Regions from separate parts of the Homo sapiens genome. Here region 2 is linked to region 1. Evidence: fine-mapped expression QTL. A gene starts in region 1. The other region holds a variant in brackets. All regions are shown on one strand. Distances are between the middles of the regions.

The links. PIP is the estimated chance that this variant, and not a neighbour inherited with it, causes the effect. A credible set is the group of variants that fine-mapping cannot tell apart.
Region 2: its variant is the best candidate, but not a certain one, in a credible set for the expression of EPHA5 in tibial nerve (GTEx, PIP 0.67).

What each region holds. Positions count from the first base shown.
Region 1 is chr4:65,668,583-65,673,582 of GRCh38, reverse strand. EPHA5 (EPH receptor A5) reads left to right here and starts at 3,094. Exons shown (of 17, transcript NM_001281766.3): 1 at 3,094-4,021. The coding sequence starts at 3,841. It overlaps EPHA5-AS1 (EPHA5 antisense RNA 1), which reads right to left and starts at 3,622. Exons shown (of 4, transcript NR_034138.1): 1 at 2,910-3,622; 2 at 1,702-1,807. RefSeq lists an enhancer at 4,945-5,000.
Region 2 is chr4:65,563,840-65,568,839 of GRCh38, reverse strand. All of the region lies in intron 3 of EPHA5 (EPH receptor A5), which reads left to right. Among named protein-coding and RNA genes, the nearest start is that of EPHA5-AS1, 100 kb to the left of the region's middle. The variant C/G (reference allele first, on the strand shown) is at 2,953.

The sequences.
Region 1 (5,000 bases):
ACTACTTGGATCACCTAATCTCATTTCCTCAGTTTTCTCATCATTAACATGGGGATAATAATTACACCAACATCAGGGTTGAAGTGTCAGCATTAAGTAAAATAGTTAAGGTAAAAACGTCACATAATGCTTTACACATAGCAAATCTTCAGGAAAAACTAGCAAGGCTTTCTGTCAAAATTGCTTTTCTTGAATCTTTGAATGCAGGGAAGATACATTTGGGCTTATTGATACACTGAACCTAACTATAATATTAAAACTTTTTATGAGGTTAGTAAACTTTCAAGGCACCTTATCAAGGTTACTTTGAATATCCTTCCTTCAGGAATACTTAGTACTGAAGTCACACAAAAGCACAGATCTTGGGAGACACTAACCACTTGCATCTTTTAAGGTCATAGTAGCTATTCCAAGAAATGAGAAATGCAAACAATAGGGCACCAAAACCAATATTGATGGCATGGCCTTTTGTTGTGCAAAACAATAAGTATAAAAGAAAAATATAAACCAAATCTAGTTTTCATGCAATGCCATGGTTCAATGTAATTGTGTTAAAATAAAAAGTATTAATATGCCAAGACATCAACACGTGGCCAAATGTGAATCTCCTTTGAGCTTGAAGTCCAAGTCAAACCACCATCATTACCTTTTCTGATTAACCCTCCTTAGATCAAAAAATGATTTTCATTGTTGTCATCAGAACTTCATGAACTTTACAGCTTCAATGAACTTTACAGCTGTTCATTCTTTCAGAGATGTGTAATCAATATTATTAAAGAACTATGAGAAAGATGGCTGCAATTTAAGGTGGAGAATACAAAGAATTTTGCTTTCTGTATTCTCAATCATGTAACTTAGCTATGTTGGGAGAAGATAACACAATTATGCCCATGCTGACCAGCGTCCCAGGTTTTCTTTGACAAACCAGATTTAAATTCTGTCTTTCTTCTCTTTAGATATAGTTAGACAATTTTATTCCACCTTTGATTCAGAAAATATTGGCATTGTGTTGATTTATGTAAAGCTATGAGTACTTTGAGGAGGAGAACGAAGTAACTTTTTTGTTGAGAAAAGAAGAATTTAATCTTGAGTGCCTGGCTCTCCTAGGACACTGGGTATGATTTAGATGACAGTAGTGTGTGTGTGTGTGTGTGTGTGTGTGTGTGTGTGTGTTGTGGTGGGGTGAGGTGGGGGGCGGATAAATATTTCCAGAGGTGGGATTTCTTTAGAATGGAATGACAGGTAGAAAAATCAGAGAGGCATGAGGTAATTTAGGGGAAAAATGAGTTTAACATTGTAGTATAGAATAAAAAATATATTTAAACCATTTGTAGTAGAAGGCTTTAAATTCTAGGCTGAAAAATTTGGTTATTTTGTGGCCAATAGTAAATAATTGGAGATAGATGAACAGGGTAGTCACATAGACATGCAACCAACGGAAGGGAAGAAGGCTTGAAGATTGTCTTCTCCAAATTCCTCATTTTACTGATGAGGATACTGAAGCCTGTAGAAGTAAAGGAACGAGCTCAAAGCCCCATTAAACTCATATTAGTTTTACTACATATTTCTGGGCTTTAGATATCGTAGTTGGTATTCTGCTTAAATATTTTTAAGTAACTCAATTATAATTGTAGGGGAGAGGGGAGCTTACATTTTGAATGGTCCTCAAATAGAAACATAAATTTTAACTTTCCATCTCACCCGTGAGGCTTTTTGCCAAACTGAGAAACTGATTCACTGCTCTTCCTCTAAATTTGCTTCATCCATTCGGAGCACATTATAATAAAAAGAACCTGCTTTCAGACTTCTGGTGCCAAAACATTTCAGGAAAAAAAGAAATCAAAGATGAGCTTTCACCTCTTTACAAAATTGCATCACTGCTGCTTTATTCTTTCATCTTTATTGCAAATATTTAAACAAAAAACAAATGTCACCAGCTAAAGATAGTGAGGAATTTATTGTGGAGACAAACAAGGCTCTAGATATGTCAAAACTGGTGAGCTGACTCACCTTTATTAGGTGTGAACGGAAGCCCAAGCTTTACAGTGGTTACTATACATGAAATTAAATGAGATATCTTTCTTCTATAATCAGACCTTTCTGTAAGTGCTTTCTCTGCAGCCTTTTGTTTTTAAATGCCTGTGTACTAAAATTGTCCTTCAAATGTATCTCTTTGAAAGAATGAATAAATCGAGGGAATATACTAAAGCAAGAAAAGACATAATAGAGGTGAAGCATAGAAAGTTGATTGTTTTAACTGTTTTTTTTTTCACTGTTTGTAAATCTCCCAATGCTATAGGGCACAATCAATTAAAATAATTAATTTTTCAAAACCCTGAATTTATTTGACCGAGGCTAATTTCACTGGAATGTATGTCGTGTATCTGCATATCGTCCAATTTCTAAAATACTAAAACATTTTATCAATGAAATAAATGAATTAAATCGCCACCTATGAAAGTACCTGGCACACTACAAATCTCAATAGTCAAATTCTTTGACTCCTTGAAATCTCAAACAGAGCTACCGCCTCTTTATTTACTCTACAATTTACTTCTGAAGAAAACATTGAGTAATTATCCTATTCCAGCCATCAAAGTATGGGAAGAACAGAAAGAGTCAGCAGCGGTAAGCGGTATGGGTGTTTAAGAAACTAGCCACGGACCAGCAGAGCCTGCGAATGCGCGGCGATGTGACGACAAGGTTGTTGATGCCACAGCCTGTGAGGGACAGCAGGCAAGATGCCAAACGGAGGGACCCGCGTCTCTAAGGGCCGCCGGCTGAGCTGGGGCTGATCTCCCTTCCGCCTCCCGGGAACCCCAGTCCTCGCCAGCGTCGTCAGGATTCCTTGCCCTAATTATCCCGGGAGGAAGACGCGCCTTTCCCGGAGACCGCTAGGCAACACTCACCAAGGCAGCCTCCAGATTACTTCCCTCCGTGGGTGTGTGACTTCGTCGAAGCAACTCACACTTACAGTAGATTCTCACTGGCGAGGCTGCGAGCAGCAGAGGGCGGGGGAGCTGGGAAGAGGAGGAGGGAAGGAGGGTGGGAGGCGCTGAGCTGGGAGGCAGAGGAGACGCCGGAGCTCCAGACACAGCAGGAGCGCGCCTTGGCGGTGCAGTTTCAACCTCGACTTCGCAGCCGCGCACACACCGCCTGCTCCCCGAGCAGCGGGAACCGCAGCAGCTCCTGGGCCGCCGCAGCGCAGCTCCGCGCTCCTACCGGCCGGCAGCCGTCAGTCCCTCCCCTCTTCAGCACTCAGCCCGCAGCTATTTCCTTCTGCCAGTCTCTTTGAACTCTGGATCTTTGCTTTTGCTCGCTGCTCTCCTGTTTTTCATTCTCCACATTTTCTCAAGTCCTCTTTCTTTATCCTTAGCCACCCTGCTTTTTTCCTCCTTTTTTAAAAAATCGGAGATTTCGTCTTAAAATGATTTGCCTTCCTTACCTTCGTCCATTTCAACACTGAAGGCTGCAAAGAACCTTCACCTTTCCCCTAGTGGTATTTAAAAATTCTCAATCCGTAAAAAGTCTTTTTGAAAGGCAAAGGAACAGGACCCAGGACCCTCTCGACACCCTTGATCCGAGTCCAGATCTGCACTAGCAACCAGAACTAATATTTCATTTAACCCCACCAAAGGGGGAGGCGAGAGGAGCCAGAAGCAAACTTCAGCTGTCTCAGCCGGATCCGTGGTTCCTACATTTGGAGGAGCCGCGTGCCAGAAGGCGTAGGACCCCAAGGGGGGACAAGGAGGACTCCCGAGTCTCCCTTCGCCGCTCTGCGAGGCCGAAGCGGTGGACTGAGCCGCTCGGGACAGCGGCACCGGAGGAGGCTCGGAGAAGATGCGGGGCTCGGGGCCCCGGGGTGCGGGACGCCGGCGGCCCCCAAGCGGCGGCGGCGACACCCCCATCACCCCAGCGTCCCTGGCCGGCTGCTACTCTGCACCTCGACGGGCTCCCCTCTGGACGTGCCTTCTCCTGTGCGCCGCACTCCGGACCCTCCTGGCCAGCCCCAGCAACGAAGGTAGGGAGATGGGGGTGGGGACCGTGGCGACCTGGGGCGGAGGGGCTAGGCGGGGCCTGGGAGTTCAGGTCTCAGCGCGCTGGACGCTGCTGCTGCAGACTAAATCGCAGTCTCATCTCAAATTGGTATTTGTCGTCCCCTTCCACTGGCCTTTTCGCTCCCCTCTGCGGTTTTTGGTTGCATTGTTTGACGTTAGCTGCGGAGTGCTGGGCAAGGAACATGCGTGTGGACAGAGGCTGGTTGGGGGGCTGGGAAGGTGGAAAACCTTGGGGGAAAGGAGGTCGAGGCCTCCTTTGGGGAATGGAGGCCCGTTCCAGGGGGATGGGTGCGGCTGGGCCTCACTTAAGGCGCGTGGGGAAGTGACATTTCGGGCTTGAAGGAGTGGGAACTGTTGGAAGCTCAGTGACAAGGATCTCTGGAGCAGTGGGGCTTTTAGAAACCGTTATTTGAGGCCAGTGATGGGAAACGTTGTGGGGGTGGCTGGATGCTTTTATTTTTGGGGAAAGTGCCTGCTGGGAGCTGTTATTTAGGGCATCACCAGCTGCTATTCTGGGGTGGGTGGCAGGAGCTTTTATTTCTCGTGGGAGGGGTATAGCGAAGGACAGAAGGCGCCCCACACAGTTGGGTGCCCTTCTTCTTGGGGGAGTTCATTGTCACACTCAAGCCAAGGTGGAAGAAGGCGAGAAGGTGGGATGCCGCGGCAGGAGGGGTGAGGGGGAGTGTCGCTGCTAGGAAGTTGCCGCTAAAACCCACCTGGGCATGTCTTAAAGACGGAAAAGACCTGCTCTGGCCAGCACCTGATCCAGGAGTACCCAGTCCCCCTCCCTACCCCCAATCCTGTGCTCCAGACCCAGAATACTGTCCCTGCCTTTTTCTGGGAGAGTAGAGCTGGCGCGGGAGCAACACCTGTGTCGCTCTTCGTGCTCCCGGAACAGTGCTCAGCCCCTCTGTCCGCCTGCCTCTTGGACCTGAGACCTCT
Region 2 (5,000 bases), 100 kb after region 1:
GCCCTTAAAAATAATAAAGTTGGAAAATTCGTTGAAGATAGATTTATTTTGTTTTATTATTTGTAAGAAACTGTTTCTGTAAGTCACTTTATCAGTTATGGTTTGAAAAAGTGTATAAACTATTTAAGATATTATTTCTATTGATATGACATATTTACCTTTCAAGACAAGTACTTCCTAAAATAATTTATTCTTTGAAAATGGGATGATAGTAATTTCACAACATTTGCTCATTTATCCTTTAATGTAAAATAAAACACAATATCAGAGGATGAAGCTTACATGTTTAAAAAAAAGGGATGCGTTGTTGTTAATTATTAATAAAAATTTTTAATATTATATTGCACATTTGTGTATAATTTATATTTAAAATCAAATTATAGTCCAAATATATGATTATTTGATATTTTATAACAAATTGTGAGTAAATCTAATTTTTTTATATCACAGGACAGAGTTTTTGATTATTTGAAATAGTTAATTCAAATGCAACAATATTTTGAGAGATAGAATTGTGTTAGGTGTCAAAAAAGACCTGCATATTCAATTCTCCTACTTACTATTTAATTATCCTTCAACAATTATTATTGGAACCACACTTTAAAGGGTGTACTTTACTTCCTCAATGAGCTATCTACCTTTAATAAAAATTAAAAGTTGTTTGAAAAATATAGTTGTCATCTGAGGTAACAGACACATTTTCTCTAGAGCAGATAAAATGATATGGGTCATGGTTACAAATTTTACCCAAAACAAGAGAGAGCCTTTACATGAAGTTAAACATGGTTTTGAGTGAAAATGAAACACTTTTTCAATTTCTATTATTCATGAATATATCTCCATTTTTTTCTGCACCAACATTTTGAGTATGAAAAGTAGCCAATAATTTATTGCCCCTGAAGAAAAAAAAATTCAAAGAATAGGATTAGTTTATCAGCAGGCAGAATTTTAAACAGGAGGATCAGACTAAAGGATGACTATAAGTCTGACAATATAGGCCAATGTCAATTAAAAGAGAAGATCAATTATAAAAGACTTTTCCAAACTCCCCACTGTAGAAAGATCCACTGATACATATTTTGAGTTTCACTATTTTGAGTCGAACATACTACTCAAGCACTTTGGTTAATAGGTGCAGTCATATTCTGTATTTAGTGCTCTTTGCAAAATATGCTTTTAGATATATGCACTTAGATATGTGTTGAAATTCTGTAAAAATCATTTTAAAGAGTATGGCATTTTTATTCCATTACATTTTCAATAACAGTATGTTTTATACTGACAGTTTGGCTATCACCAACTTGTACTTGAACATTTACTTTTCTTTCTTGTCAGAGCCCTTGTCTTAAGATGTCTCTTTTTCTTAATAGGTAGAATACTCACAAAGCCAAATTCTGAAGTTATTGATATTAACTTACATACACCAATATGTCACCAGTACATAGTATATGTTTTTGTAATGATGAGGATTGTCGGTTTGACATATTATAAGCATTTCAAGACCAAGTATTAAAACTTAGAATATAAGTGCTCTGATGAAACCTTGTTGAATGACGGAAGAGAGGGGTTTACTAAGAAGTTCATTTTTGGAAGTAAATTATCTACCAAGTTTGCTGACTTATGCATTGTATAGAAAAATAATTTGAAAAACCAACTTTTCAAGACATAAAAAGAAATTTGTCTTATAAAGATCTATGAACTTAAAGATTGTTTTTTGGTTTGCTTTTTGCTTTTACAGCACTTCAGAAATAAATATTTTTAAGTTTCTGTTAATCGTCAGAGTTTGATGAATGCACAAATAAAAGTGTGGAGTGTTTGTATATGGGTGTGTGTAGTCAGATAGTGTATAGTTCTTTTATATTAAGTATATAAGACCTATAAGAGGTTGACCATGCATAAATATACATTCCCACTATTTACCCTCAAAAACAAGCCTCCGTTATAAAAATTTTTTAAAAATTATCAAAAAATAAAGAAATGTAACAAATGTCAATGTACCAAAACAACCATTATATATTTTGGATGACCTTTAGTGATGTTACAGTTTGGGGGAGAAAAAAATGTAATAATTAGCATGCTGTCAATTGCATTTTACTTCTGTTAAACATGAGTGGCATAATACAGACAAGCCTTACAACTGACAGGAAGAGGCATTGCTAACCAGCAGATGTTTCTAACCACCTTAGAGCTTAAAGCTCATACGCTCAGTGCCTCTACTGTGAATTAAATTGGAGTAGCACTTTGCTGCCTCTCTAGATTTCCATCAAAAAAATAAAATAAATAAGGAAGAAAAGAAAGGAAGAATAAAGAAGATGGGTGGGTGGAATTGAAGAAAGGGCGTGAAATTGATTTAGCAAATGGTTCACCATTGGCATTACAGTTTATTTCTTGAAAAAATTGATATGGAAAGGTATTTCAAAAGAATATTAGTTTCATAGAGTGGATTTTTTAAGGAACTATGTGAGGTGTCAATTTGTGTGATGCAACTGGATATGAAGAATATTAAGTGGTTCCCTACAAAATATCTATACACATCTACCAGAGAGAATTGTGTGTTTGCTACACACTGCAATTTAATCCATTTAGACTGTTATTATATTGTGACATGTACACTGAACATCTTTGTTGCATGAATGGAATTGCTAAACAGAAAGAGGAGACCCCATTGTTTTTCACGTTACACAGTCATGAGAAAATGGGAGCAGAAAGCTCTTAATTACCATATTTCCATGTTGTAGAAGTAGGGCCCCCACAGAGGTCTCTTTGTAATGCCAAGGATAGTGGAATTATGAAAGACAAGTTTGAAAGGATATTTTGAAGGAATTGGAGAATTCAAGGTTATAACCCATGAATTGACTAAATAAAATATCAGCATTTCTAACATACCAAATTTGAAGAAAAGATCAACAGGGAGGAAAAAAATGAGATAGAAATAGTCTCCAAGTTTATTTC[C/G]TATTCAAAGTAGAATAGGAAATAAAAAGTGTTTATTCAAAATTATAAACTTAGAAACAGTTTTAATTTAAATTAATATTTCATTTATATTCTGTAATTTTTTTATTGCATTTTAACTGCCACATATATATTTCCCATAATATGTATTAGCTAGAGTTTGGCATCCTCCTAGCTTTACAGATTATCTTTTTTTTTTAATGGCTATTTTTGTCTGCTATTCTTTCTTTTGCCTTGCACATATTCAAATTTTCTAAATTTGCTGAAAGCAGAATATTATTTGAAGTATTGTTTATGAAAACAAGGTAATAAGTAGAATCTTATATTTTTATGAATATATTTTATTACCAAAAATACTGAAGTAAAATAAAATAAATTTGAGTACAAGCAAAATAAAAATTACTTTAAGCCTTATTGGAAATCTCTTATTAAATTTTACTGAAAAACATTTATATGACTTTTCTAATTATATGTTTGTGAGTCCCTTTCGCATGTAAGGGTAGAAGTTTCAAAATGAAATACTTTGTGAAGGCTTAAAAAGAGTTATTGAAATGAAATTGGATTGAATATATTGGGCACCACTGTTAAAGTGCTCTTTTGAAAAGATTGCATAATAATATAAAATTTAGTCTGCTAAAGGTCTATTAACTCTGATCCATTAGCAAATTGGTCACCATTGGCCTTGAATCTTATTTCCTGGAAAAGTTGGTTATAGAAAGGTGATTTGGGAATAGTCTTAGTCTTTAAAGTGAATTTTTAAGGAACCCTCTGAGGTGTCCTTACATTGCAATTGGATATGAAGAGTGTTAAGTGACTGCTGTGAAATATCTATATGCTTCTGCCAGCCCTCTATCTATTTTTAATTAACTGTATAATATTTATTAATAGATTGTATGTAATGAATAAGTGGAAATTATAGACTACTATAAGATTTCTTTCTGGATGCAATTGTGTAAAATTAGGTCATAAATTAACAGTGAAAGTATTTTGAAATTTATTTCCATAGAGAACACTTTGCATTAGAAATGCAAGTAATGAGAAATAGAAGCCCCTGATAAGTAATGCTGTGTCCTTGCATTATTAATTGTTTCTATAAAAGTATATATGTATCACCCTAAATACAAATACATTGCTTAATTCTAGTAATACTTCATTTTTTTCCATTACAACAGATATTTATCTACCCTTGTAACGTTGGGAAGTTCACGAAATGTATAAAACATTGCAGAACATAAGCCACTCTACTGTGAGATTTTTAAATAACTTGGTACATGTAGCTAAGAAGGGTTTAAAGTTTATAGTAATAGGATTGGTATAAATAGGGACTGAGCTCGGTTAACACGCACATATGCTTATAAAATGATACAATAAAAACAAAGTCACAATATATTCATAGCCAGGTCACTAGAAAGCAAAACGTATGGCGGTTAATTCTGGATTCACAAAAACCAAAACCATATGAAAATGAGGAAGAAAAGGAATAAGTAATTTTGACAATCTCCTAATGTAATATTTAAATTTCTAGCAATTAGGACCCCAGTAATTACCTAAACTTTAATAGGAGCTATCATTTAGAAATATTTGTTGATATGGTTGTAGTATTTTAGTCAAAGCATCTTTTGGGTTAAGAACTCCTATGGGTACTTTGATTTAGAAACTAATGTTGGTGTCTATGTGGTATTCCTGGGAGCACCTTCAATTAATATGCAAGAAAAATGATTATCTTGAGTTATTTGTGATACAGAAATACAGGGTGAAATATGTATGCACAAGTAAAATCAGGCCTCAAAGAAATCATTTTTTGTTTGTTTGTTTAAAACTGTGTGAAGCATAGCAAAGAGTAAGTTGGCTGAACAACAGATGATAATTTTGTTCAACACTTAGCACCAAATCCTTTGATAAAGGATACTTGGCAAAAAATAGTTTGAGAGGAAAATTTCTAGTATTTGTGGAATATGTTATAGTACTTGTTTTGATTTATTAGCCTTTGATATTTTTTAAACAGAGGGAAGATTTCTGAACACATACTATTGATGTCATTTAGCTCCCAC